Linked DNA regions of Homo sapiens. The protein of the gene in region 3 purifies or fractionates together with the protein of the main gene of each other region. This does not show direct contact. Each region holds a gene or a part of one and is shown on either strand. Other genes may lie near its edges. The genes, in order: METAP1D, GMPPA, PAK5 and SUPT5H.

Evidence for each region.
Region 1: the proteins of PAK5 (region 3) and METAP1D purify together in Homo sapiens (affinity purification with mass spectrometry; 2 studies listed by BioGRID and IntAct, with this or other methods). This does not show direct contact.
Region 2: the proteins of PAK5 (region 3) and GMPPA purify together in Homo sapiens (affinity purification with mass spectrometry; 2 studies listed by BioGRID and IntAct, with this or other methods). This does not show direct contact.
Region 4: the proteins of PAK5 (region 3) and SUPT5H purify together in Homo sapiens (affinity purification with mass spectrometry; 2 studies listed by BioGRID and IntAct, with this or other methods). This does not show direct contact.

Annotation. Positions count from the first base shown.
Region 1 is NC_000002.12:172,079,113-172,084,186, reverse strand, and holds the end of METAP1D (methionine aminopeptidase 1D, mitochondrial isoform 1 precursor), read right to left. Parts: intron 4,973-5,074; coding exon 4,925-4,972; intron 4,060-4,924; coding exon 3,981-4,059; intron 3,860-3,980; coding exon 3,781-3,859; 3' UTR 1,757-3,780; downstream 1-1,756. UniProt on the Homo sapiens protein: Removes the N-terminal methionine from nascent proteins. The N-terminal methionine is often cleaved when the second residue in the primary sequence is small and uncharged (Met-Ala-, Cys, Gly, Pro, Ser, Thr, or Val).
Region 2 is NC_000002.12:219,500,982-219,508,676, reverse strand, and holds the end of GMPPA (mannose-1-phosphate guanylyltransferase regulatory subunit alpha), read right to left. Parts: intron 7,202-7,695; coding exon 7,098-7,201; intron 6,827-7,097; coding exon 6,640-6,826; intron 6,296-6,639; coding exon 6,236-6,295; intron 4,595-6,235; coding exon 4,464-4,594; intron 3,824-4,463; coding exon of another isoform or gene 3,809-3,823; intron 3,450-3,808; coding exon 3,315-3,449; intron 3,220-3,314; coding exon 3,122-3,219; coding exon of another isoform or gene 2,963-3,121; coding exon 2,916-2,962; intron 2,698-2,915; coding exon 2,605-2,697; intron 2,424-2,604; coding exon 2,255-2,423; intron 1,980-2,254; coding exon 1,879-1,979; 3' UTR 1,688-1,878; downstream 1-1,687. UniProt on the Homo sapiens protein: Regulatory subunit of the GMPPA-GMPPB mannose-1-phosphate guanylyltransferase complex; reduces the catalytic activity of GMPPB when part of the complex. Mediates allosteric feedback inhibition of GMPPB catalytic activity upon binding GDP-alpha-D-mannose.
Region 3 is NC_000020.11:9,536,200-9,543,502, reverse strand, and holds the end of PAK5 (serine/threonine-protein kinase PAK 5), read left to right. Parts: intron 1-782; coding exon 783-917; intron 918-3,885; coding exon 3,886-4,041; 3' UTR 4,042-6,133; downstream 6,134-7,303.
Region 4 is NC_000019.10:39,462,551-39,471,646, reverse strand, and holds part of SUPT5H (transcription elongation factor SPT5), read right to left. Parts: intron 6,850-9,096; coding exon 6,598-6,849; intron 5,168-6,597; coding exon 5,078-5,167; intron 4,973-5,077; coding exon 4,902-4,972; intron 3,426-4,901; exon of another isoform or gene 3,354-3,425; intron 2,892-3,353; coding exon 2,786-2,891; intron 2,569-2,785; coding exon 2,475-2,568; intron 2,386-2,474; coding exon 2,249-2,385; intron 1,529-2,248; coding exon 1,373-1,528; intron 1,271-1,372; coding exon 1,124-1,270; intron 291-1,123; coding exon 144-290; intron 43-143; coding exon 1-42. UniProt on the Homo sapiens protein: Component of the DRB sensitivity-inducing factor complex (DSIF complex), which regulates mRNA processing and transcription elongation by RNA polymerase II.

The DNA.
Region 1 (5,074 bases), on a different chromosome or scaffold from region 3:
AGCCCCACGGTGAATCCCAAATTACTTTGTTAGGTAATTAGAAAGTGTTGATAATTATTTCTTTCATAATTTAGCGGTGTGACGGGAACGGGGAAATGATCTTGTGAAAGTTCACACGTGCAGATGTATTAGTTACTGATTCATTTGATTAAATGGTAGTCTCAAGTGCTCAGATCCGCAGCTGAAGGCGCCCCATTAGCATAACACTGATGTTTAATTTTCATACGCATAATTAGCCATATATTTAACACTAATAGCAACATGCAGCCTTTCAGCGTTAAACAGCCCGGGATTTGATCTGGCCTGAGCTGAACCTTCATCGCTGCACCTTCCCCTGTCTGGAGTGTGCAATGATCACAGGACAAACCTCTGTAATCAAGCACATTTTGGCAGAGGGAACACCAATAAAAATGAACATTCAAAACAAATTACATCGGTGCTGTCGTTACAGATATTAGTAGAGGGGGTTTCTCTTTTTTTTTAACTTCTGTACCAGCTGCTGCTGCCCGCAGAATTCCTCTCCTTTGGTTTAAGGGCACAATGCTGGGGGCAGAAATATTTCAGGCAGAGTGGTTGGAGCAAAAAGAAAAGCAAAAGCAAAAAAAACCCAATACGCCAAACCAATAACGGGTTTGCCAACGTTTAAAAGATTTTTTTTTTCTTAATCACCGAACCACACGGTGAGGCTTTGTAGCAACAGCCAGCTAATGATTCCGCCACCAGGCAACTCCGGGAGCCGCTCGGCTCGTCCTGATTTCTGTGTCGCACTTGTGGTTTTAATTGCTCCTTCCTAGTGCCTGTTTTAGGGTATGGAGTGCCACGCCGTGTGCCCAGCACAGTCGCTCGGATACTGCCGGGCCCCAGGTCTCTCGCGCGTGCCCTGAGGGCCTTGCCCAAGTAAGTGATCGCCGCGGCGGGCGCGGGGTCGGGGTTGGGACCGGGGAAAGCGGAATTGGTAATTCCCGGAGCTCAGGGCAAGGCGTGAGGAAACCCGACGGCCGGGCCGCCTAGGGACAGTGTATTCCAGAGACTTGCAAGGTGGGGGAAGGGGAGAGACGGCCGCACATCGCGACAGTCTCTTGGGTGCTCTGTGTCCACAGCTGGAAAAGGATCAAAGACTTTTGCGGTAGCACAGGGGACCTGGTTGCCTTCTTGGAACAAAAGTCCGGCATGAGCCCCTCGGGATACTGTTTCAGAGCCTTGCTTAATTTAGAAGCGGGTTGTGTGTGAGCAAGAGATGGCTACACTCCGGAATTATTTCTTAGCTCAGAAAGGTCTAGGGAGGAGCACTGAGCGCGGGCCCTCTGATGCCGAGCCGCTGGCGGTAGCTGGTTTCTCAATGTGGGATCTTAGCTGCACTCAGTGAACTTGGAGTGGATCCCTCCCACCCCCTACTGCTAAGGTGACACCTGTTCTGAATGCCGGTTTGCTTAAATTGTTGCCTGCCCTCACTCTGAGAGAAAACAAAACTCTCCCATTTGTCCTGAGGGTCCGGGATTCCTCATGGAGCCTACTGGAGTCACCTCAGGACCAGGAGGTCCTGGTGGTGTTAGCCGCAGCCACTCTTGGCTGGAATCCCAGTGGCTCTGGGTGAGGTTTTCGGCCAGTTCAGCTGGAAGAGGGACAGGAAGGCGTGGACGAGGTATTTTTAAATCTACTTCCTAATCTCAACTTCAAAGCATGTTAAAGGGAGTTCTTTAGGGAGCTGCTGAGTGTTGGTACACACATACACACATATATATATACACCCACACACTTTAGGTTAGTCCCTTTAATAAATGGAATTATAAACTTGTCCCATAAATACCTCCACCTCAAAATAATTGCTGCACAAGCAGCGTGTTACCTCAGTGGTTAGTAAAGTCCTGTGGTCCTAATAAAACTATCCTTGGGGAACCTCGGAGTAAACTGATTTGCAGATAAGATACAATGCTAATGGTTGCAATCTGATTGCCTTAGGAGAAAACTGAAGTCATTCTCCAGCAAACATCTCCCAAGGCCAGCTGAACCCTCTTGATCTTTAGGGAATTCAGATCTTTGGGGGGGTGGGGGGCAGTAGCATCAGGCTGTGGGCCTCTGCTTGGCCAACTTCCGACCACACAAAAAGTTTTTCTATGGACCTTGTAAATCATCAACCCCTCCTTGGTCTTTTCCAGTTCTCAGACTCACTAGAATCAGAAACACCTCTATCCAAAAATCTACAACCCTGGACACAAAGAAGCCGAGCTGGAGGGGTTGGGGGACGACGAGAGAACCCTGTGTTAGGTAAAAGCTGGAACTCATCTCTTTTCCGAGCCACCTGGTCCTCAGTTTCCCGTATTATGAATGTTACAAAGATGAGCTGGCTCTTAGTCCTGGCCGAGGACACCACCTGTCCTGGCAACTACAGGTGCCATTTCCTTGCCGCTTCCGAAAGCCCAAGTTATCTTTAAGGGATGTCAGCTTTGCAAAACCCGCTTCAGTAGAAACAAGAGTTAGCACAACCATTAACTGCTTGAACACCCTCGTTGGACTTGTTCCTAAAATCATAACCGAAGGCAGACGGCTTCCTTCGTGGACTGCCAGAGGCCCGGCCTCTCCCTGCCCTTGAGCTCAGGTGAGGAACAGGTACCGGAGAGCAAGCGCAAGGGAAAGGAGGGTGCTCCGGGCAGGAATGGCCCTTGGCAGACAGAGCGTGGGCCCTTGGATTCCTGTTCCTGAAGCGGGATGGAACTGCCGGCCGAACTGGAGCTCAACTCGCAAGCTTCAGTCCCGGCCAAGTAGGCCCTTGCTCTCAAATGCGCCCGTATCTCCTCTCTCTGGGACCCTCTCGGTTTCCAGAACAGCTGACGTTTGCGGCTCCTGCAGCGTGCAAGCGCGGGTCCCGATGCGAGAAGGGCCAGTCTGGGGAGGGGTCATTTTAGAGACTAGACCGCCCACTAATCAGCCACTGTTCACACCTGGGCGAGTGGGGCCCAAGCTCGAATTCCTAGTGCAGCAAACGGTCTAGCGTGCGTGCGTGCGTGTGGGGTGGGTGGGGGGAGGGCCTCAAACTTCACCTCTGGACTGGCCTTGGAGGGCTGGATGTGGGCGGGGGAGGAAGAGCCGCAGGGGTCCAGGAAAGTCGCGTTTCTGGATTGACAGAAACCTGAAGAATGGCCAGGCCCAGAGTCCACTGCCAAGGACATGTTTGTAATCAATGCCTCTGTTCGCGGGCTAATCTTTCATCGCAAAGCCGCGATGGAGGGGAAAGATACGGAAGGGCTGGGGTTGGGGGCTGGCTTCTGCGAGCATCCTTGGGGCCGGCCAATATGGAATACACAAAAGGGAGAAACGGATTCTTAAAAATCCCAGTCAACAGGTTCGGATTTTTCGGCAGACGTGCAAAGTTCAGATACAAAGATCACTGTAACTGTCAGAGAGGTAAGGACCTCTGATACAATGGATTTAAGAGGTTTTTTACTCCAACAGTCAGGGCAAGGGAAAGAGAAAACCGTGCTTCTCTTGGAATCTCTTCCAACAAGGGGGTTTCCTCCAGTCCCCTCCAGATGCGTTGACCGCGCTGGGAAACCGAGTCCAGGGCCAGGATTTGTTTTTCCAAAGCCGCGCGACCCCAGCAGGGCTTCAGATCCGAGTTCCCAGTTGCTCTTCAGTCTCCCCCGCGTTCTTCCAAACGCTATCAGGAGCCACGCAGGTTACCGCACCACCGGTCATTTCCCTGTTTCTTCTAAAAGTTCTCCAGCCAAATTTCAGCAATTTATTTAAAAAGGCACCAGGTCACCGCGACCTTCGGGCGGCTCCTCAGGCCTCATGGGGTAGTTTGGTCAGGATCTGCGCGCCCCTCGACGTGATCAGAACCGTGTGCTCGAACTGCGCCGACCTGTAACACAGCACCCAGCCGTCAGAACGCGCACGCAAGCTCCGGCCGGGCCACAAGCGCGCCGTCGGACCAATCTTCCTTTCCCATACAATTTAAAAGCAACAGAGCAGAAAGCAAACACCTTTGATTGTCTAGGGAGACCACAGTCCATGCATCCTCCAGGACTTTAAATTCAGGGGATCCCTCCGTGATGATTGGCTCTGTAAGAGGAAAAATATTTACTGCAGTGACCTCATCAGATTCTTGTTAAACATTGTTTCCGGCTGATTATTAAAAAAGAGAAGTTTCTCCTCCCTCCCCTCAAGTGCTTCCCCCACAGGCTCATGTTGTCATCTTGCAAGGGTTGATAATTGATGTTGCTTACATAGTATACTACAAACTAAACAGTTGGAAGAGGAAACACTGCGCCATTCAAAATGTATGAAGTTGCCTAGTTCGTAATTTTTTAGAGAAAGAAGGGCATTTTAATCAAGCTTTAATTAGGACCCCGTGGATAATAACCACCCAAACACCAGTCCCTCTTATAAATACCAATTTTTAAAAAAATATTTAAATTTTAAAAACATGCTCGAGATGTTCATTCATCAGCAAATAACAATTTTCTTATTTCACTCTAATTGCTTCTCCATTAAGTCCCACAGTCAGAAACAGGATGTCTTTACGGCCCTAGGTGACTGGAATTTGGTGGTGATACCAATCACAGGATCAGCCAGGAACGGGCCACCAGAGAGCACATGCCACTTGCTGACAGGGAGCAAGGGACATAATCGTGTCTAGTTACTGGGTGTTAATGAAAAAACAAAACAAAACAAAAAACCCAACACCACATTATGCTGGTAACAGAATTAGAGGTTGGATGGCTGCCTTCTCCTAAATGTGTCGGTAAGTATCTGATTTAGGAAGATGGGGCTTGAGGATATTATTTAATCAGATTTCCAGTGCATCCGAATTATTTCATTACACTGATTGGCTTTATTGGTCCTTCACCGGACTGCCGGGCCTAGGCCAGTGGCAAAAGCTTCCACCAGGAGCTACGCACTCACTCGGAAGAGGAGCTCAATTTACCTATAGTGAATGCCATGCCCTCCTCCATGGGTAGATCACTGTCGTTTGCTGCAAAACAAAAAACATGGGGGGTGAGAATAGGAAATGGGGAGGACAGAAAAAAAAAACAGATTACAGGGGTCAGGCCCCTTTAAAAAACTTGGTCGTTTT
Region 2 (7,695 bases), on a different chromosome or scaffold from region 3:
ACCCCGTCCAGGGGCAGGTGCTCCATCTTGGGTCTCTCAGAGATGGATGGGACTTTAGGTCCCTCCCAGCACAGAAGTGGGTTGGGGAGGAGTGGGGGGGGCATGTCCTTCTTAGACCCCCCCCAACAATGGTGACTCCTTCAATCTCGGGGGCATGTTACAAAGACCTCTGGGGGGCATGTTACAAAGACCTCAGCTTTGCTAGCGGCACCCCCCTTCAAACACTGACCCTTTCCCCTTCCACTGCCTCTCCCCACCATGTCCCCACCCCCACTGGGTCTAGGAGGGGGATCCCGGGGGCCAGGGCCTGACACAGACTTATTGGATTTCACGGTGTTTTGCTGAGAAAATAATTAAATTATCATATTTATGATGGAGCTGCCATGGCCTCTGCCAACCACTCGGAACAGAAGGGTCAGGACTAGGGGGGAGGAGAGGGAAGGGACCTAGCCCCTGGTCCTATGGCCCACCCTCTCCCAGCCCCTTCCTTGGGGTGATGACCCCAGCCCAGAGTGGGGACCTGCAGCCCCCTCCCACTCCCATGAAGAGAGATAATGAAGGTCTGGGCTGGAGGCCAGGACAGGAGGAACTGAGGAACTAGGGACAGCTTATAGGTCAGGACTGCTAAACCCCACACTGTGTAGATCGTTCCCTACATGCTGGCACACAGCCCACGGGACCTGAGGGGCCTGGGAGGTCACATTTGGCCCAATCCCCAAGTCAACCTCAGTCCAGCTCCTGAGAAGGCGCAGCTTCCTAACTGCCAGGCTATGAAGCTATGAAACCCTGGGCTCTGTCCCAGAGCCTGGTGCTGATAACAAGGCCCCAGCACCCTGCTGCCTGCCACCCCTGCCTGCTGCCAGGACCCCCTCCTTTCTCCCACCCATGCCCTGCACCCCCCATTCTCTTCGGGTAATTAGATTCCTCTCAATTAGCAGATTACGATCATTACCAGCTCATCTGGCAACACAGCTCCACACCCACAGCTGGGGAAGGGGGGCACCAAGAGGGGCACATGGGGGTCATGGGCAAACATGAGAGATGGCTGGGAGAGGAGGGCTGAGACCTACCAAAGGGCAGGGCCAGGGGGACAGGAGGTGGTGAGGGCCTTCCCAGAACAGGGTACCTCCCACTGTGCTTCCGAAGAGAATGGCACCAGCTCAGGCCCACCCAGCCTGCCAGGGGAGTAGAAGACAGAGACATGAGGCCTCGGGCAGAGGCAAAACCCCCACCCTGCCAAAAGCCAAGCTGGGAGCAGATGGAGCTGGCAAAGCGGAAAACCGGCCAGGGCTGGGCTCAGCGGGAACCGAGCAGAGCGGGCTGTGGGGATCAGCCTCTAGGCCTGTGGCCCCAGTTCCTCTGCCTGCTGCCCAACCAAAATCCTTCACCCTTCCCTTCGGAATCCTTGCACATGGGGGCCTGAGCCAGGCCCGGTGAGGAGGAACAGGGAGGCAGGGAGGCAGGGGTGAAGGGGGGGACCAGGCTGGCAGGGGAGCCTAGAGGGCCTTCCTCCCGAGCAGCACGAGGCTGAGGCAGTGGGAGGGGGAGATTTACCAGGGCTCCAGATTCATTATTCATGAGCCCACAGCAACGACTCCAATTTAAATGCTAATGTGGGGGGGCCTGACTCAGCTGCCCCGCTTCCGCCCCCACCCCCAGCCCAGACATAAGTACAGTCTGTGCTGGCTCCAAGGTTCACGGGGTTTATTAGGGAGTCGGGAGGGAGAAAACCCAGGAGTCCCCAGGCCATCCACATTGCTCCCCGGCATGTGACGATCCAGCCTGGCTTTCTCTGGTCCTTTCTGGACAGAGGCTGGCCAAGCAGGCAGCAGCCTCAAGGGGAGTGGGTAGGAGCTGGGGGCCTTCTGGCAGCCCTACTCAGAGGATGATCTGGTTGGTGAAGCTTCGGCTCAGCTCCTTGTGTGGCAGAACAATCGAGTTCAGGATGAGCACCTCGGCAGGGATCCGGACTCGGCAGCCTGCAGCATGGATGAGGGCACCAGGGGAGGTCATGGGAGGGGAGACAGGGGCAGGGAGCTGGGGGCCACTGCCAGCAGGGAGGGAGCCCTCCTGCCCATCTGTGCCCCTGGTCTCATGCCCCCGGTGACTCACACAGGGCCTGGCACACAGCAGGCCCTTGGTAACTGTTTGCTAAAAGAAGAAACACGCGTGCACACAGAGGAACGAATGCTCCCCGGGGCCACTGGCCATCAGCTGAGGGGTTCCCCCAGCCCTGGCCCCCAGGAAGCCATACCCAGGATGGTGATAGCAGGCAGCAGCTTCCCGTCCTTGAAGAGGCTCTCACTGTCCATGCGGGCTCGGGGATCGTTGGGGTTAGGGTCACTGGGGGTACCCTCCACGCGGGCCCAGCGTCCCACGGTGCTCCCCCAGCCCACGATGCTATGCAGAACACACGTGTGCTCCTGCCAAAGAGGACAGTGAAAGGTAAGGGGAAGAGGCAGGAGGCAGCAGGAACCGGAGGGTGTGAGGTGTGGCCAGATGCAGAGCCCACGGCGTTCACCCTTCTCTGTTCTTGGGGGGATGCCTGGGCCCTCCCCGCAGCCTCTTGGGGTGTCACATGCTGCTGTGTATGCTGGTACCTACCTGCAAAGTGGCTCCATGGAGGACGATGCTCTCCCGGAGCCGCACACCCTCACCCACGGTCACCCCCTTCCCGATGGAGACGTTGGGGCCCAGCTGTGGAGAGAAGCACACACCATAAGCCCTGGAGGGACTTGGAGGATCCCCAAACCCAACTCCCTTCTAGAACAGATAAGGCATAAGTGACCTGCTCGAGGACACACAATAGGCTGTGACAAAGTGAAGAAACCGGCACCCAGAACTCAGGCAGCGTGGGCACCCTCCATCCATCCGACCACCACCCTTCCCTCCCTGGGGCTGGGACCAGTGCTCACCACAGCCGAGGGGGCCACCTTGGCGGTCGGGTGGATGTACACATTCCCTAGAAGCAGAAGAGAGGCCCTGGGGGCAAATATCCCAAACCGAATTTGATCAGGAAGGGGCAGGGATTGAGGCTTTAACTCTGGACTCGAGGTCAAGAATCCTGGTTCAGAGGGCTGGGGTGGAAGCCAAAGGTTAGGAATTGGGGCAGGCTGGGTACCTCGGATCCATGGGCCCCCTGGGGTGTGCTTGGCCAGCCGTTCTGGGTGAGTGTCCTGGTATCGGCTCAGGTAGAGGCGGGAGGCGTAGAGGGCTGAACTGGGGACCGCAAGGGGGACAGGGGCTCAGGGGTCAGCAGGGCCTGTGCCCACCACCCCAAAATTTCAATCCCCAGGGGACCCAGCCTTCCATACCCTGCGGACTTGATCTGACTCCAGATACCATCAGTGAGATGCACGTATATCTGGCCCTGCCCTGCCAGGGCTGAAAACACATCCTGCTCTAGGCGGATGGTACCTGCCCCTGGCCACAAGCCTGGTGAGTCCTCCCTGGCAGAGAGGAAGAATGCTGACATTAGTCCCCCAGCTGAGCCCCGACTGTGGGGCTAACACAGTCTCCCAGGGACAGGAGTAGGAGGATTCCCACCACCTCTCTAAGCCCCTCTCTCCAGGTCTGGTTCGGCCCTCTCTGGGATGTGGCTGCTCACATCCCAGGAACCTCTCCCACCCAGCCCCCACTTGGGTGGGTGCTATCACAAGGGAGCCCCAGGCAGAGGCCTGCTTCCCATCCCTGCCCCATTTCCATAAGGAGTTCCCCCCATTTTCACATTCTCATCCCCATTCAGCCCTTTACCCCCTCCAAGTTACCCTCCCCCTCATTGGATGGAATGAAACACAGACAGACTCACCCCAGAGCAAGGCAGCTGGTGAGGGCAGAGACAGTCACAGAAAGAAAGGGAGAGAGAGATGGTAGAGATGCCAGCTCAGCAGAGACAGAGACAGAGAGGCCAGGAGAGATGGAGAGGGAAGCAGAGACACGGGTGGGAGTGAGAAATGGCTATGAGCAGAGGAGGCCTTAGATGGGGCGGTGGGGGGTTAAGGCAAGGATCCCTAGAAGGGAACAGCTTCTAGCCCCAGGAGGGAAGACCCTGGGACTGGTGAGCAGGGCTCTGGTGCTATGTTCCAAGGGGAGCCTCAGCCTGAGAGTATGCATGTCTGTCTGTGTGTGCACGTGCACACGTCTGCACCCGAGCATGTGTGCGCCCAACTGTGTGTTGCTGTCTGTTCTGAAAGACGTCTCTGGGACACTCAGGGCTTAGGAGAAATGGACCAGAAGGGGAGTGGGCAGGCAGTGACAGAGGAGGAACTGGGATGGATAAGGAAGAGGGACAGAATGAGGTTAGAAGGGGAGGGACTCAGGAGGCTCTGCTGGAGATGGCAAGTGGAGAAGGGAGAGGGGAGGAGGAAGGTGAGCAAGTTGAGATGGAGCCTGCAGAGACTGGTATGTGTTGGGGTCCGTGACTGGGGGTACTTGGGGTCACAGGGCTATGGGGCCTGCCTCACAATTGCCCATCCTGCTGATTACGCTGGAAGACATCCCGAAGAGGCTTCAAGGCTTCAGGAGAAAAGAGGTAGATGCCGCAGTTGATGATGTCACTGATAAATGTGCTGGGTTTCTCCACATAGTGCAATACCTGAGGACAGAGCAGGCTGGGTTCAGTAGAAGAAGGGACTACCGCCACAGTCCCCTAAGACCCTCTGATTTCTAGGCCCTTCTTGCCTCTCCTCCCTGCTGCCAGGGTGGCCTGGCTAAAATGCAGTGCGCATCCGCATCCTACTGCTGCCTGGCTTTAAACCCTGAGATGACTGCCCTTCACCTGATTCAGCTTCAGATAAATCCAAAGTCCATGGCTTTCCCTGCCTGATCCTCCCCACCACCTACCTCTCAGACGCATTTCCACCCGACTGCATGCCTGTGCCTGGAATGGCCTTTCTCATCTCTTCATCTGGAAAGCCCACCTTTCCAAACCCAGTTGACACTGTCACTCTCTCTGTGCGTCCTCTCTTGCTGGCCCGAGTTAGCTGTTCATGCCTGGGCACTCCTGAACTCTGGCCACGCCTCACCCATGGCATTGTATCATTTGCAAAGGTTGCCTTTTGATTCTGTCACTCCTATTAGACTCACAGTAACCAAGAGGCAGGGACTGCACCCATTTGGCTCTGTTTCTCTCACAGCTACCTGGTGCTGAGCACAAAACTATATGTGTGTAGGTGTGTACATGCATGTGTGTGTGCGTGTTTATATGTATGTTTTATATTAAAGCACGAACAAATAAAAGGAGTATGTGACGCCAGGTATGGTGGTGGCTCATGCCTATAATCCTAGCACTTTGGAAGGCTGAAGTAGGTGGATCACTTGAGCTCCGGAGTTCGAGACCAGCCTGGGCAGTATGACGAAAGCCTGTCTCTACTAAAAATACAAAAATTAGCCTGGCACCTGCCTGTAATCCCAGCTACTCAGGAGGCTGAGGCAGGAGAACGGCATGAACCCAGGAGGCAGAGGCTGCAGTGAGCCAAGATCGCACCACTGCACTCCAGCCTGGGCAACAGAGTGAGACTCTGTCTCAAAAAAAAAAAAAAATCAGCTGGGCATGGTGGCTCATGCCTATAGTCCCAGCTACTTGAGGGGCTGAAGTGGGAGGATGGCTTAAACCTGGGAGGTCGAGGATGCAGTGACCCAAGATCATGCCACTGCACTCCAGCCTGGAAGACAAAGTGAGACTCTGTCTCAAAATAAATAAATAAACACATACATACATAAATAAATAAAGGAGGGAGGGTTATGTGAAAGTCAAGGGGCTTAGGAGAAGGGAGTTTCACAAAACAGGACAGAGCCCTGCTGCCCTGCCTATCATGCTCCTGCTTCTGGTATGTTACTTCCTGCCTCCAGGCCTTTATACCTGCCATTCCCTCTGCCTGTAGTACCTTCCTGTCTCCTTTGTCATCTAGACAAATGGGACTCTGCTCAGACCTTGCTTCCTCCAGGAAGCCCTCTCTACTCCCACCCCAGCAAGGCTGGGTTGGGGCCCCCTTGGTGTTCCCATCATGCACTGTGCATACATTTATTACAGCACCACCCCCAGGGAAATTAACCATTCCCCCCCTCCCCCTGGTCAATCTCTCTTAAAGGGATATAAGATGATTAATCGGGAGTGTCTCACCTGTCTGACAAGACTAGAGCCCACCCCATACTGTGCCAGCATTCTCTAGAGGCCTGAGGTAGAGGGGATGATGACACAGAGTAGGCACCCACCCAGCCCCCACTCTGCTCTCACCTCGTGTGTCTGTGGATTCTCAACGATGCAGCCGTAGTTGAGGGATTGCGTCCTGTTAGCCTGAAAGACAGACACACCCGAGACAGTGACCCGCCTGCTCCAGGGCAGCCACGTCTGTTTTTTCTTTCTTTCCCTCCGCTACAGCACCTGGCATGCAGCTCTGCCACTGACAGGCCTTCAGCAAGGGTGGAAACTGACAGCTGCCCTCCCCCTCCCTACTTCTGAACAGCCAGAGGGCTCGGGGTCTCCACTAACACCTCCATGCTGCCAGAGCAGCGCATCTCCCTCCTGACGCCAGCTCCCACACCAACTCCCGGGGCGCCCCTGCCTCCCCAACACCCTGAATTCCGGGAAGCTCTTGGGATCACCTCCTCTACACCCTCCAGCCCTCCTGACCCCCTCACCGTAGTGCCAAGGAGTAAGAAAGGGTGACGCTGGCGTCGGTGGGCTTCCAACATAGCACTCAAGGGGAAGTCGGAGCAGACATCAGCATTGAGCACGAAGAATGCCTCGGGGCTCCCAGCCAGGATCTGGTCTCGAAAATGGTAAAGACCACCCCCTGTGCCTAGGGGGGCAAATTCCTGCAGGTACCTGTCCCCAGGGACCCGAGAGCCAGCTCAGTGGATCTTAGGAAACAGATACCATGAGCCAGGGCACCTGACCGCCACCGCTTGCTCCCAGGACTACTCCTGCCCAAGGCCCACAGAGAAACTCTATATACTCAGAGATTCATTGATGTCCAAACAAGAATCCTTCTAGTAGGCGAGGATGAACTCCAGCAAATGCTGACTCAACCCACTTCCAAGAACTCAGAGGCCTAGGGCATCCCCACCCCCCCATATACGAGTGTGTGCACAAACACCTGACTGGAAGGTTAAACTCCTGCTGGGCGGCTTCTAGGAACTGGGTGAGGGGCTCATCAGGTTGGTAGAAGCCAATGAGCAGAATCTCCTGCATTCCAGGGACCTGAGGACAAGGGAAGAGGCTGGGATGAAGAATATCTAATAGGAGGGGATGTTGGGGAAATCCTTGGTGCTGGCCCAAAGTCCAGAAACCAGTTTCAGTCTCAGCTGTGGGGCCCCAGGGCACTCACCACTCTGGGCTATTTTCTCCTCTGGACAATGAGGAATTTGGAGGAAGTCGGAGGCCTGATCTTTTTTCGTTTTGTTTTATTTTTGTGAAAAAGGGTCTCGCTCTGTTGCCCAGGCTGGAGTGCAGTGGCATGATTTTGGCTCACTGCAGCCTCCACGTCCTGGGCTCAAGCGATCCTCCCACCTCAGCCTCCTGAGTATTGAAGACTACAGCCATGTCACCACCTGCCTCAGCCTCTAGAGCAGCTAGGACTACAGCCAGGCCATCACATCTAGCTAATTTTTAAACTTTTTGTAGAGAAGGGGTCTCTTGATGTTGCCAAAGCTAGGCTAGAACTCCTGGCCTCAAGCGATCCTCCTGACTCGGCC
Region 3 (7,303 bases):
GGTCCTGAGAGAGAAATTCTCGGTGAAGGTCACTGCAAGGGGTAATAATAGCAATACGTTCATCAGATAAGAGGTATAATGAGGCCCTAACAGGAAACTTTCCTAACAGGAAAGTGAGTGGGACTGGGAGTTTATAGCACAGTGATGGCTCCTCATTGTCTCGACTTCCCATTCTTTACTACTTGCTTGTCATCTCTTCCTTTTCTTTTCTCCAATCCCTGAAAATGCTTTTGTAAAGTGAGGTTTTGTGCATGCTGTTTTGAAATGATAATAAAAGGTAGTGGAAGGAAATCCCAAAGTAGGGGAGAAAAGAGCTATTTTTAAAAGCAAATTAATAAAAGAATCAGAATATATTCTGCATCCTGCAAGGTAGCCCTTTGCAGTTTGTTACAAATATGTCAAAACTTTCTTATTTGCTTATGGTTTAAATACAATTTTCTTCTCCATTTTCATAGCATTAAACCGGATGATTTTCTCATCTGCCCTGATAGACAGTTAACTACTAAAGTTTACAGAGTAAAAATGAAAGCACTAAACTTTAGAATGTTAAAATATTCATTTATGTCTGATGGGTGGAACCTTCACTGAAGTTGTCCATAAAAGGCAAAGACTGTTAGCAAAAACTCGGTAACCCAGCAGTTTAGCCTATAAATCTATATTGTAAATGTTGAGAGGTTACAAGTGCCATAGTCACTTGTGAATGAGTATGAGGTTCTGTGGACACACTTGACATTTCAGAATGTTCTCCTTGCCTGAGATAACCAGTAGGGTGTGCCTAACAGGTGGACATCTGGTCCCTCGGGATCATGGTGATAGAAATGATTGATGGCGAGCCCCCCTACTTCAATGAGCCTCCCCTCCAGGCGATGCGGAGGATCCGGGACAGTTTACCTCCAAGAGTGAAGGACCTACACAAGGTGAGAAACAGCAGCTGTTGCTAAAGTTCAGAATAGTTTTTGGATTTTCCTGTATCTCTCTGGTTTTTAAGACTGGCTTACCACATCCAGCAGGAAGATCCTGGTTTATGAGCATGGACTTTGGAAATAGTCACTTAGGTTTGAATCTCTGTTCTTCTATTCGTTTACTGGGCAAGTGACTCAGCCTTTCCTATGCCAAAGTTCTTCATCTGTAAAATGGGTTATGATTGGCCTGTATCCCAAAGGGTTGGTTAGAAGAGTAAATCAGGTGCTCTATGCCATACTCATTCATTCAGCATCTATTACATGCTGGGGACATCTAATAGCTTGGGATGTCACCGTGCATGACCCCAGCTTTTCTGACTCTGGGGTCTAGACTCTGCATTCTAGTTGGGGAAACAGATAGTAAACCATAAACAAACAAATAAATAAAATAATTTCAGAGTGTGGTACATACTATGAAAGAAAAACATACTGTGATGTGACAGAGTGTGCAGGAGAAGGGATTGAAAGCTGGTTGTATGAGTCTGTTTTTACACTACTATAAAGAAATACCCAAGACTGAGTAATTTACAAATAAAGAAGGTTTAATTAACTCACAGTTCCACATGCCTGGAGAGGCCTCAGGATACTTACAATCATGGCAGAAGGCGAAGGGGAAGCAAGGCATGTCTTACATGGTGGCAGGAGAGAGAGAGCGCACAGGGGAAATGCCAGACACTTATAAAACTATCAGCTCTCATGATAATTCCCTCACTATCTTGAGAATAACATGGGGTAAACTGCCCCCATGACCCAATTACCTTCCACCAAGTCCCTCCCTTGACATGTGAGGATTACAATATGAGGTGAGATTTGAGTGGGCACAGAGAGCCAAACCCTATCACTGATTTAAGCTGAAGAGTGAAGGAAGCCCTTTCTAGGGAGGGATCAAACGAGCTGGGACCTGAATAGGAAGAAGGTACCAGCCATGCAAAGATCTTGGAGAAAAAGGTCCCAGGCACGGGGAGCATCAAGTGGAAAGGCCTTAAGCCAAGAAAGAAGGCTTACATTGCTGGAGTAAAGTCAGAAAGGGGAAAAAGGTAGGTCTTGTCAGAGAGATGGGCAGGAGCTAGATTGTACAGGGCAATGAAGGTCATGGTTAATATAATGCATGTAAGAGACCGAGTGGGGTCTTTTCTGTTTTCCAAGGATTGCCAATTAGGACGAGCTCAGAAAATAATGATGCTTCATCCAAGAATCACCACTGTAGGAGCTGCCAGATTTCCAAAGGACTTGCTCAGAGGATCATTTCTGCAGGACTACTACTATAAACACTGGCCCCATACACACCTCTCTTCCTATCTTATGACAATAAAAGAGAGTGTGTGGCTGCCTTTTGGAGGAGAATTATTTGTAATGGTAATATCTCCTCCTTCCTCACCCCTAAATCTTAGGGAACAGCCCCAGTAGCATCACTCATATAGGTTGTGTGGACCTACAAAAACATAAACAAAAAAAGAGAGATTGAAATTTTTACTGGATTGGACTAAGTCTAAATAATGAAAAGTGGCTGGGTGTGGTGGCTCACGCCTGTAATCCCAGCACTCTGGAAGGCCGAGGTGGGCGGATCACGAGGTCAGGAGATGGAGACCATCCTGGCTAACACGGTGAAACCCCATCTCCACTAAAAATACAAAAAATTAGCCAAGCATGGTGGCGGGTGCCTGTAGTCCCAGCTACTCAGGAGGCTGAGGCAGGAGAATGGCGTGAACCTGGGAGGCAGAGCTTGCAGTGAGCCCAGATCGCACCACTGCACTCCAGCCTAGGTGACACAGCGAGACTACGTCTCCAAAAAAAAAAAAAAAAGTGACTAAAAATGTATCATATGAAAGTAGTCTCACACCCAGTGAGTGCCAATGTTCTTCAAAACCATGTACAAGAACAACTTTAATCCTAATGGTTTCAAAAAAACTGGAAACCAGTCCGAGGTTGTTTCCCAAATGGATAATGTGTGGTATAATTGGACAGTGAATACTACACAGTAATTTAAAAGATATAACTTTTGCCACACGTCGGAGATGAATCTCACAGATACAACACTGAGTGAAAGAAGCCAGATAGAGAAGAAATCAAATATATGACTCCATTTTGGTAAAGTACAAAAGTAAGCAAAACTAAGTTATGCTATAAATTAAAATAGTGGTGACCTTTTGCAGGGAGATAGGGGTTGGCAGGAAGGAAACCTAAAAGTAGCTTCCTAGAGTGGTAGAAAAGTTCTATATCTTGATAGGAGTGGAAAGTAAATAGGGGTAAATGTATGTAAAAATCCATTGAGCCACACTCTTAGTATTTGTGCAGCGGAACCTGGGCATGCTGGCACATGCTTGTACTCCCAGCTACTCAGGAGGCTGAGGTGGGAGGATCATTTGAGCACAGGAGTTTGAGCCTGGGCAACATAGTGAGACCTCATCTCTAAATATATACATAAAGTAAGATATACCTTTAAAAGGAAAATTACAAGACCTTCAAAGAAAAAAATGAGATGTGTTCGATATCCTTACAGAAGCTTGTTTCTCTTAAAGAAAGGGGTTCCACAGAGCCTGTGTGGTTGCAGTTGTTAGAAAAATAAAACGGCTCCCTGTTTATACTATGCTTCATCAAGCACGTGTGACCAGCACCTGCACATACTAAATATTTTGTAATAGCTGCTCTTATCACTGTGATTGCCACTGTTATTTTATGTAGTAAATAAGTTTTCATTCTTAGTTGAGCTGTCATTTACACCTATTATTTCACACTTGAAAAAGGTAAGGAAAACACGAAATGTTAACAAAGACAAGACATGCTTTTGCTTTCACAACATCTTTCTCCTTAAGGTAACTTTCTGGAATTTGAAGTTGTTGATAGGATGAATGGGGAAAACATTTTGGGGACTGGGTTAGGTGTCTGTGTTAGTCCTCAGATTGGTATCTGTGTGTTTTCACAGGTTTCTTCAGTGCTCCGGGGATTCCTAGACTTGATGTTGGTGAGGGAGCCCTCTCAGAGAGCAACAGCCCAGGAACTCCTCGGACATCCATTCTTAAAACTAGCAGGTCCACCGTCTTGCATCGTCCCCCTCATGAGACAATACAGGCATCACTGAGCAGAGGATTCGTGTAGGTGGCAAAGCTAGATGAGGACATGAGAATAATTCAGGAGAACAAAAGGAAACACAGAACATGCAAAAGGCCTGTGCATTCTAGACCAGCCAATTGGTGGGACAGCGTGATGACCGGCAGGGTTCAACAGACCAGGGCATCTTCTTGTGTCTTAAACAGGCATCTCTCCACTGACAGCCGGTGTGGTCACTTGGAGCACGGCTTTAATAAGTCATTATTATATTTTTCAGCCCTTCATCCAGCAAATCAGAAGGACTCAGTACAAACTCCGTTATGATATATCCTAGCCACATGCAGGGTAACATGTAGGATTTTCTATATTGAAAGAATACTTTTCTGGCAAAAAAAAAAAAAAAAGAAAGAAAGGAAAACAAAAAGCACTTTTTTCTTAATGGTAGCAGTATAATGTATTTTGCAACGAATTTGTAATTTTTCTGTACGATAGTTTTGATAATTTATAGTACTTTGATGTCATGTAGCCATTGTATCAGTTGAAGTAATACTTGTTTACTAGAGGAGTTTGAACAAAGCCTTTCCTACTTTTTTATCCCTTTAAGAGAACCAATGATTCTTTAGGAACTTTGAATACTGAATGACTCTCAATCACCGTCAGCTTTAGTAAAATCTCTTTCTTATCCTAACAAGTGTCTTATTTGGTGGAAGAAGAATTAAGAGTGATGGTGATGGTGTGCACGTTTCATTAATCCAACCAAAAATAATGAAATAAAATTTGAGCCACAGTATACCACTCCTTGGGATAAAGTTAAATATTTTTAAAGATCACATTTTCCATGAACGCCTCTAGTAGCAAACCATTCTTTTGCACACCACAATGTTTCCCTCAGTGCCCTTTCTCAAATGGGTACAATGTTCCCTTGTGGCCAAATTTCCCTCCCAGGGAGCAATTTCAGTGCTAGGATCATTGGATTCAGTTCCCAAAATAGAATGTTTCAGTGAGACCATGAGAATTCCAGGCTCACAAAGGGAGAGGAGAGAACAGGGCAAGACGTTTGGTTTCATTTGTCACCATTTTTAAAACTCTGTATGCTAGCACACCAAACTCTTGTCTATATTTACCTTTGTACCACAGTATTAATCGCTATTGTTCATGTATCGTGCTGGAAGTCTGAACTGACTCTAGAGGATGAATTAGCAAGAGGGTATTTTACCAGGTATGATCTGACTTCAGTTGTGCCCATGTTATAATGTGTTTCCGACATAGGAGAGTCGTGCTGCTGTCTAGATCTTCTTGAATGTTGATAAAAATGAATGACTACTACAATACATTTTGTGTTGCTTGTTGGATGAATTTGCATGTTAACTGTAGGCCAATATAGATTTGCCTTTAAAACTCTGGAAGAGCTACATAGTCATCATTAGTTTCTATTAATTATGCATCAGACAAAAGCCATTTGTTACCAAACTGGGAAAACAGAGGCTTTTCTTAACTATTTCACATACTGTAACAAATATGAATTTAAATTTGTGATAGCGCTCTGGTTGCTCTAAGCATAATTAAGAATTTTTGTAATTAATAGGTTGCTAATTATTTATCACTGCTAAAAAGGAAAAAAGGCATAAAATGACCTTCTACTGATTAGATTTTCAGTTTTCTTTCAAACTGGAAATGCCTCCATAAATATGATCTATGATTTTGCTTCATAAAACAGCAAATCAATGTTTTATGTAAAATATTAAAGCATTAATATAAATATGTGAGAATAAAAACAATCTAAATCCAGAAAATGGCAGTCCTAAATGTTCATGAGACAGATTGTATTAATTTAACCAGGACTATGTAGAAGTAGAAAGAAAAGAAAAAGAAAATCTTTTTTAAACCAGAATAAACATTAAAAACTATTGCAGAAAATAGTGGATTTTGGATTCCAAACATTTTCGACAGTGTAATGGAAATTTTTCTGTAATTTTCTTACCATCGGGTATTTTTTAAAGTATTCATTGAGTTTACCAAAAGTTACTGTAGCTTAAAAGGTTTTGTGAGCACTAACTATTGGCAGAAACTGCATTTGCAAATAAAAATAAATGTTTGCCTTTTCCCCATTGTGTTATTGGAAACAGTGATTTCTCAAATTTATTTTATTGAGTAACCAAGAATGATTTCTTTGTGATCTTGGGGAGTGCAAATGAGTTGGTACAAAGTTGTATGTAACATTGTGATGACATGACGTAAAGACAAATATATCCATCCCTAGGGATTGTAAAGAGTGTAAGATGGTGATGTCGATACCACTACTGAAAAAAAAATTACTAAATTCTGGAAGGCCACGTTCAAGGAAAGCCAGGTTCAGGGCTGAAGACTCTCATTCTACTTCCCTGTTCCAAAGATGCAAAACTGATCTGAGGGCTTTTTTAAAAATTAATTAATTAATTAATTATTATACCTTAAGTTCTGGGTTACATGTGCAGAACATGCAGTTTTGTTACATAGGTGTACACCTCTCGTGGTAGTTTGCTGCACCCATCAACCCATCACCTACATTAGATATTTCTCCTAATGTTATCTCTCCCCTAACCACCCACACCCTCACAGGCCCCAGTGTGTGACGTTCCCTTCCCTATGTCCATGTGTTCTCATTGTTCAACTCCCACTTATTAGTGAAAACATACGGTGTTTGGTTTTCTGTTCTTATGATAGTTTGCTGAGAATGATGGTTTCCAGCTTCATCCGTGTCCCTGCAAAGACATGAACTCATCTTTTTTTATGGCTGCATAGTATTCCATGGTGTATATGTGCCACATTTTCTTTATCCAGTCTATTATTGATGGACATTTGGGTTGGTTCTAAGTCTTTGCTATTGTGAATAGTGCCACAATAAACATACGTGTGCATGTGTATTTATAATAGAACCTGGATTCAAGAGGTCGTGTTGAGAGCTCTCTGGGAGCCTAGAAGATAATTTGGGCTCTCTCCTCCACTTTGGGAGACAAGGGGGACATTAACATTGATCTCGTGAAGCTGGAGGATGGGGGAACTTTTATATACACAGCCTATTTTCCATCCAGAAATGTTGGAAGGTAAAAACCCTCAGGAAGTAGCCTGAGCTAGCAGGATGAAAAAAAGGCATTGTATATCACATGTCAGGGCAGACAAAGGTGGAGGCAACCTCCCCTGGACAGGTCTCCTCTGCCTTTACTGGGCATGGAAGAAGACATGGAGTTCCCTTGAGTATGTTTGATGGGACATGGAGAGGACAGCAGGGAATGTGTCAAACCACTTAACTAAGT
Region 4 (9,096 bases), on a different chromosome or scaffold from region 3:
GGCGAAGCTTCGGAAGAGATGGCGAATCTCCCCTTCTCGGCCCTAGCCGGGGAGAGAAGGGTCACTCTCTTGACCATGTCCCCCTCACCCCCAACCAACCAAATTCTTTCAGATGCAGCTCAAAAGCAGGAACTTGTACTCACTGAGTGGGGGCCATCAATGACCTTAACGATGTCTTTCACATGGATGTTGTTCTGCTCTGAGTCCAAGGCCACAGCAAAGCGGTTGTCCTTCTTCCGGGTCACAGCCTGATGTCTGACAGTCACCACCTTCCCGTACATGTTCAGCACCTACAGAGGGAGAGCAGGGAGGCTGTGGGGGTGAGAATGGGAAGGGGAGACACGGGGCAGGGGTTCCCTAAAGTGGGATAATCCTTCCTTGTGGGAGACAGTCCCAAGCTCCACAAGGCATCTCAATTCCCTGGCTGCGGGGCAGGCAGGCAGAGTGCCACCCTTTAGGTACTGGGTCAACCAAAAATGTTCCCAGTCATTCTAAAACACCCTTTGGAAGGAGACTCCACCCCCGATTGGGCAACAGGGACCTGAGAGATGGAAGAAGGGGCTGATAGCAACATTGTTCATCCATCATTCTGTGTCAGGCCCCGTAAGATTTCACTGAAGCCTCAAAACTTCCTCTGAGGTGGATTCTGTCATGATTTCCATCTTACAGAGGGAAACTCAGGCTCAGAGAGGGTGAGTCACTAGCCCAGGGTCAGACAGCACAGGAGCAACAAAGCCAAGATGTGGATGTGGAGTCCAGGATCCTAAGTACTGTGCTCCATGACTCCCACATCCATGAGGAAGGAGCAAAGGCAGGAGGGCACATGTGGCACTCCATCCTTGAGCGAGCAACAGCCACCAGGGTACAGATCTAACCTCAGGGAATCATTCACTATGAACAAAGTAGACGCTGCTCTCGTTTCCATTTTATAGGGTGTGAAAACAGGCAAGGGGAGGGATCAATGACTTGCCATGTGCCCACTATCAGCCATTCAGATGTAAGTGACAGAGCCAGATCTGCAACCCAGAGCAGTCTGGGGGCTCTGCCACCTCCCAGGATGAGGGGTTGAGGGACAGGAAGCCTCCTAAAAGCAAGTCCCCGCCACAGAGCACAACACACACACCTGGAAGGTCTCCCGTTCTAGTCGCACGATGACACCCACAGTCTGGGGATCCAGCTGCACCAGCTCGCCCCATTCATGCTGGCCCCCAACATCCACACCTGATGCTGTCTCTGAGCAGAGCTGCAGGTCCCGGGGGAGCACCTTCAGCTGCCAGGGATGGTGAAAGGGGTGAGGCCCAGTCCAGGTGGCTCGCCTACCTGGGTCTCCTCTTGGCACGTGCACCCTTCCCCGACCCTTCTATCCACCTACCTCATGCATGGTGAGGTCAGAGAACAGGATAACGAAATTCTCCTCCACCCGCACAATGAGGCCTGTGTCGCCCTCGAATCGGCCAGCAATCACCTTCACGTGGTCCCCCATCTTGAAGTATTTTCTAAGTTCCTGGGCTGGGAACTCCAACATGTCCTGGGGGATTGGGTGTGGGGACAACAAACAGGTGAAGGGAGACCACCACAACCTGCCTGCCCCTCCTGTCTTCAGAATCTACGCATGTTCTCAAAAACCCCACTTCAGGCTCTTACCACCCACCCCAGACTACCTTAGTCCACCTGGACGACCCCTCAGACTGCCCCAGAAACAGCTGACCCCAGACACAGGACACCAACCTGGACAACCTTTACCCCAGCCCGCCCTCAAGACACACGATGCCTACCTATACCCACACAGAGAGCCTGCCCCTCAGACACAGGACCCCCGACTGGACAGCTCCTCAGCCCCACCCGGAGACAGCCTCACCCCACACATCACACTGGGCCTGCACAACCCCTCAGACATACACCAGACACAGACAAACACACACCCCGCTCTAAGCAAACAAAGTCAAGCCTCAGATTACTCCTTGGTTAATCACACTCTCAACCCAGTACTACCCAGATATCTTGCTTTTCAGAAACAAAAGATAGACCAAGTCACTCTCCAGAGACAGACACCACCAGGCAGGCCTGCTGCCCACCGACCCTGAGCTGCACTCAGACAGAGCCTCTCAGGCACCTGAGAATGCTAGAAGGGCCTCAACTTACCCTCCTGGAAACCAGGTGTCACCAGGCACACCACCGCCTCGACAGCCACATACAGTCAGATGTGCCTGAACACTCCAACCCCTGCCCGAGAACACCGGGCACCCACCTTGAGGTCCTCATGCTTGGGCATGATGGTGATCTTGTTGCCATCCACGCTGAGGATCTTGCCCTGCAGGTTGATGAGCTCACCCTCACAGACCTCCACGTTGTCCCCAGGTTGGAAGTTGTGCTCCCGCTCCTTCCCTGCAGGGGCAGTCGTAGGGCTGACTCGGGGGTTGCCACCATGGGCCGCCCCTGCTCCTTGGCCCAGGTTATAGAGGGGGATCAAATACCTGTGCTCTCAGTCACCACCTCCAGGTCAATGCCCTCTGGCTGGTCCTCAAACTTTTCCAGCTCAGAGAGTGTTGGCTTCACACCCTCCGTGATCTAAGCCCCCAGCGGTGAGGGGAAGAGAAGGAAATGGACCGAGGTCAGTGCAACAGCCCAGCTGAGTGGGCTGAGTGGGTCCTAGGGGAATAATTCTCCTAGGGAACACTCCTAACTTGAGGAGTGGGACAGAACCAGATAACCCACAGCCCAGGGCATCACCTGCAGGAGAACACTCACACCACCCCCATTACCAACACCCCTCTGGGACCCTCACCACAGCAGACATGGCGAAGCTCTTGAACAGAAAGCCCTTCCGGCTGTAACGGTTCCCCTCAAAGATGAGGAAGTCACCATCAGAGGCAACATCACCCCCCAGGGACCTGGAATTTGATGGGGGAGAGAAGATTAGAAGGGAGAGTCAAGAAGAAAATCTTGCTGTACCTCAGTCTTCTCAGCTGGCAACAGAAGGAGAGGACCACAGGCAGACTGACCCATCCCATCCCAGCACACACCCTCTTGGCAGCAGTGACTTCTCACAAACCCCAAAGGCCCGCCTCCCACCTCCCTGCACTCCTCCACCCATTCCCTGATTTATCTTTGAGCACCGATCACCATCTGACAATCTAGTGTTTGACCTGTCCCCCTAACTAGCATGTCAGCTCCAGAAGGTCAGGGATGTAACATTCACTAAATTTCACCAAGAATAGTGCCCAGTACACAGAAAGTATGCAGTAAACATTAGCTGAACAAAATAACAGTTTCAGACAATGATACCAGTGAATATTCGCAGAGCGCTCAGCCTGGCCTGCACACTCATGACCTCACAGGCTCTTCCCCAAATCTGTGGCATCAGTAACTGCTCATCATTTCCAGGTGAGGGAATGCAGGCTCAGGAAGGTCACATCACATGCCCAAGGGTGCCAAGCCACAGTCTTGACAGGATTCAAAAGCAGGCAGGTGGGACTCCCAAGCCTGCAGCTCCCGGCCCCAAATGTGGAGTGGCGGCCGCTTAGTGCCTGTTCCGAGTCTCCGGGGTGGGGAAGGAGCCTCCTTCATGGAGGAGCAGGTCAAGTTCCTCCTGCGCTCATGCAATCGCCTTCTCCCATGGTGAATCTGGGAGAGGGGCCAGCATGCTCTGCTGGGCATGCTGGGGTACTTGGTCAGCTGGCTTGCTGGGGGGTAAGGGAGCACTAGGGTTTGTTCTTTGCAAAGAGAGGTTCAGGTGAGTCGAAACCAGTGGTATAAATGGGTCCGAACTCAGGCAGGTGAAGTATTAGCAAGGCCCTTGGGTGCAGACTCAAAGGTGCATTCCACAGCTCTTCCTTTATCTGAAGGAAAACCTGACTGGCTGAATCACACACAATTAGTTCTAGAACAGGACCAGAGGGAAGAGTGTCACTGGCACCTCTCGTTTCTCCATGTCCTCCTCTCCTGCCCTCCCTGCCGGAGCCCCCAGTTGGCCCTGGGATGTTGAAATTCCTGGGCTGCTCCAATTCTCTACCCAGCTAGGGAGTCTGGGGGGCATCCTGAGGGAAAGGCACTCCATACCCCCCCATCTCAAGTGGGCATAAGCAGATCAGGAAAGGAGACTTTCTAAAGCCTGACATAGTCCATGAATCCCATTTCAATATATCACACCATGGATCACACTTACTACGTGCCAAGGGCATTCTGAGTACATATGCATACTAATTTATTTAATTCTCACTATAATCTATAATCTGAGGAAGCAGAGGTTGTTTTCTTTTTTTTTGAGACGGAGTCTCGCTCTGTCACCCAGGCTGGAGTGCAGTGGCACGATCTCGGCTCACTGCAATTTCTGCCTCGTGGGTTTAAGCGATTCTCCTGCCTCAGCCTCCCAAGTAGCTTGGATTACAGGAGCTGACCACAACCCTTGGCTAATTTTTGTATTTTTAGTAGAGACAAGGTTTCACCATGTTGGCCAGGCTGGTCTTGAACTCCTGACCTCAAGTGATCCGCCCGCCTCGGCCTCCCAAAGCGCTGGGATTATAGGTGTGAGCCATCACGCCCAGCCTCATCAATCTTTTTAAATATTTTTTTAACTTTTTTCTTTTTATTATTATTATTATTTTAAAAGATGGGATCTCATTATGTTGCCCAGGCTGGTCTCGAACTCCTTGCCTCAAGCAAGCCTCCTGCCTTAGCCTTCCAAAGTGCTCCCTCCCGCTGCGCCCAGCCTCATCAATCTTTATAGCAGAAGAAACTGAGGCACAGGGATGTGAAGTGACTTGCCTGAGGCTATACTGCCAAGCTAACCAATTCACAGGCTAAACCTGTGGCGGGGCCACCCCTGGGGAGGAACCTGCAAAAGGCACATTCTACACACCGGCCCTGGGGACCCAGCCCAGCCAGTCCCCAAGGACACGCACCTGATCTTCTCAGCATCAAACAGCCTCTGTGGAGGCCGCTTAAACTTCTTCCTTTTGGCAAACCAGTCTTTCTATGGAGGAAAGGGGCATGGGTGGGAAGGGTGAGGGAGGGGGCTTGGCCACCAGTGGGATCGAGCACACTCCCTCCCCCCCAGGCCACAGATTCCCCTGAGTACCAAGCTCATGCGGGCCTTGATGCGATCGTAGTCGATGCGTGGGATCATCTTCAGGGAGATGGTGTTCTGGCTGGGCTCCACGTAGTCCACCTGAGCAGGGCGAGCAGAAGGTCAGCAGGGCCCCACTCTCCTCCCTGACCCCAGACACAAGAAGGGTCAGGAGATGCTAGGAAGGAGAAGGGACGCAGGATGGTGGGGAAGAAACCAGGCTGCTGACCACTCCCAAAAGTCCCACGCTAGCTTGTCTGTCCCCTCAACTCTGGCACTGAGTAGCCACTGCCTGCTTGGTATCTCCACCTGGATGTCTAAAGGTCCCTCAAATCCAGGACGACCGCAGCCAAACCGCTGATTCCCCCAAACCTGCCGCCTCCCACTCCATTCTTCCCTCTGCTCAGGCACACAACCTGGGAGCCACTCTTGACTCCTTTGTTTCTCTTACACCCACACCCGACCCGTTGGCAAATTCCATCAGCTCTGCCTTCAAAATACCTGACCTCTTCCCCTCCTCCACTGCAGTCTCAGCATTCCAAATCCAAAAACCCAAAATGCTCAAAAATAGGAAACCCTGTGAGCACCAACATGATGCTCGAAGGAAATGCTCACTCTTGGATTTTCAGATTTGGGATGCTCAACCGGTAAGTATAATGCAAATATTCCAAAAGCTGAAAAAATCTGAAATCTGAAAAACACCTGTGGTCTCAAGAATTCAGGTTAGAGACACTCAACGTGTATTAGGGTCTTGGTCCTATCCCACCAGCACTGCCATCTGGGTGGGATGTGCTACAGCAGCAGCCTCCTCCCTGGTCTCCACGCTCTTGCCCATGGCCCCCTCCAGGCTATTCCCGGGTTTCTCAGCCTTGGCACTATTGACTTTTTGGGCCAGGTAATTTTTTGTTGTGGGCAGCCATCCTGTGCATTGGAGGATGTGTGTGTCTAGCATTTCTGGCTTTAACCTGCTAGATGCCATAATCGTCAACCCCCTCCCCAGCTGACATAACCAAAAATGTCTCCAGACGTTACCAAATGTCCCCTGGGGAAACATCACCCTGGCTTGAGAACCAGTGGTCTAGTCTCAACACAGTCACCAGAGAAATCTTATTAACATTGAAGTCTGCCTGTGTCCCTTACAGCCCTCCCATCCTACGCCAGTAAACACCAAAGCTCTCCAATGGGCCGCAGGCCCTCGTGAGCTCCCTAACTCATCTCACGCCATCCCTGCTGTAGCCAGTGACTGTGCCATCCTATCTCACAGGCCACTCCTGCTGCCTACAACACTCCTCCCCAAGAGCTCCACATGCCTCACGCCCTCCGATCCTTCAGACCTTTACTCAACACGCCTGGGAATGTGCACAGAAGACAGCCAACCGTTTCCTGTGTGCTCACAAAACCCAGGCTCTGCTTCAACTCATCTGAGTGGGATTCTATTCTCTGCAGCACAAAGAGGGTGGGAAGGACAAAAGGAAAGGAAGGGAGAACAGAATGGAGGGACCCTGACCCCCATGCCACCCCGCCCCGGGCACCTGAGCAATGTCATCCTTGTAGATGCCCCGCTTGAGGCGGACCCAGGACTTTGGTTTCAGGTTGGCCACCTCCTTCACCACTTTGAGCACGTCTGTCATCTCCTTGATGGGCACCATCTGCTGGTTCCAGTAGCCAAGCCGCAGGTTGCCCACCCCCTCAATGGCCTGCTTCACGTGGGTCTGCTTGTAGGCCTCCACGTAGATGTAGCCCTTCACATGCTCTGGTGCCACTACTGACTTGATCTGCAGGGGCTGCAGGGTGAGCCGGTGGAAGGAGGAAACAGTGAGACACAACGGCTAATAACAGAAATGACTGCCACTCATCAGCAGTCCCTCTTCTAGGAATTTATTCCACAGAAACACACTGGCACAATGACATGGACACAAAGGTGTTCCCTGCAGAATTATTTATCACAGCAAACAAACCAGACTAAAAATTTTAAAAATATCCAGAAACAGTAACTAGTTAACTTATGGCTTAATGTACCATGAAATACAATGTTGCAGTTAAAGAATACAAAAACTAGCTGGGTGTGATGGCACATGCCTGTAGTCCCAGCTACTCAGGAGGCTGAGCAGGGAGGACTGCTTGAGCCCGGGAGGTTGAGGCTGCAGTGAGCTGAGATCGCACCACTGCACTCCAGCCTGGGCAACAGAGTGAAACCCTGTCTCTTAAAAATAAAAAATAAAATAAAAATTAGATTAACCTGTATGTACTAATATAGAAAGCTATCCAACATATGTTCTGTGTAAAAAAGCAACTAGAGCCGGGCACGGTGGCTCATGCTTGTAATCCCAGCACTTTGGGAGGCCGAGGCGGGTGGATCACTTGGGGTCAAGAGTTCAAGACCAGCCTGACCAACACGGAGAAACCCTGTCTCTACTAAAAATATCCAAGATTAGCCGGGTGTGGTGGCACATGCCTGTCATCCCAGCTACACGGGAGGCTGAGGCAGAAGAGTCGCTTGAACCCGGGAGGTGGAGGTTGCGGTAAGCTGAGATCGCACCATTGCACTCCAGTCTGGGCAATAAGAGCAAAACTCCGTCTCAAAAAAAAAAAAAAAGCAACTAGAAGAAGAACCAAGAAAGGAGTGCTTACATCAGACAAAATATACTTTAAGACAAAAATTGCTACCAGAGACAACAAAAAACATTTTGTAACAATAAAAAGGTCAATCCATCAGGAAGATAGAATTACAAATGTATATGAAACTAACAGAGCCTCAAAATACATGAAGCAGAAACTAATGAAAATGAAGGAAGAAACTGACAACTCAACAGTAACAATCACTGACTGCAATACCCTGCTTTCAATCATGGATAGAGCTAGACCCAAGATCAACAAGGAAAGAGAACACTTGAGCAACACTGTAAGCCACCTAAACCTAATAGCCAGCTATAGACAGAACATTTCGTCTTCACTTTCCACTTATTAAGCGGAAATGGGAAAAAAGAACACTCCATCTAACAACAGCAGAATGCACTTTCTTCTCAAGGGCATATTAAACTTTCCAGAATAAACCACAGGTTAGGCCATAAAACACGTCTCAGTAAACATAAAAGAACTAAAATCATATAAAGTATATTCTCCATCCATATGTAATGAAGTTAAAAACCAACAGAAAGATACTTAGGAAATTCACAAATACATGGCAACACACTCCTAGATACCAAAACTTATGAGATTTGAAAAAAGCCATGCTTAGAAGTAAATGTATAGCTGTAAATACCAACTAAAAGAAAAAAAAGGCCAGGAGCGGTGGCTCATGCCTGTAATCCCAGCACTTTGGGAGGCCGAGGCAGGAGGATCACTTGAGGTCGGGAGTTCAATACCAGCCTGGCCAACATGGTGAAACCTTGCCTCTACTAAAAATACAAAAATTAAGGCCGGTTGGCCAGGCGCAGTGGGTTCATGCCTGTAATCCCAGCACTTTGGGAGGCTGAGGGGTGGATCATCTGAGGTCAGGAGTTCAAGGTCAGCCTGGCCAACATGGTGAAACCCCATCTCTACTAAAAATACCAAAAAAAAAAAAAAAAAAAAAATTAGCTGGGCATGGTGGTGGGTGCCTGTAATCCCAGCTACTTGGGAGGCTGAGGCAGGAGAATCGCTTGAACCCGGGAGGTGCAGGTTGCGGTGAGCCGAGATCGCATCATTGCACTCCAGCCTGGGCAACGGTGCGAGACTCTGTCTCAAAAAAAAAAAAAAAAAAGAAAATTAAGGCTGGGCACAGTGGCTCACGCCTGTAATCCCAACACTTTGGGAGGCCGAGGTGGGCCGATCACCTGAGGTCAGGAGTTCGAGACCAGCCTGGCCAACATGCTGAAACCCTATCTCTACTAAAAACACAAAAATTAGCCAGGCGTGGTGTCGGGTGCCTGTAATCCCAGCTACTTGGGAGATTGAGACAGGAGAATCAGTTGAGCCTGGGAGGCAGTGGTTGCAGTGGGCCAAGACTGCACCATTACATTCTAGCCTGGGCAAGAAGAGTAAAACTCCAT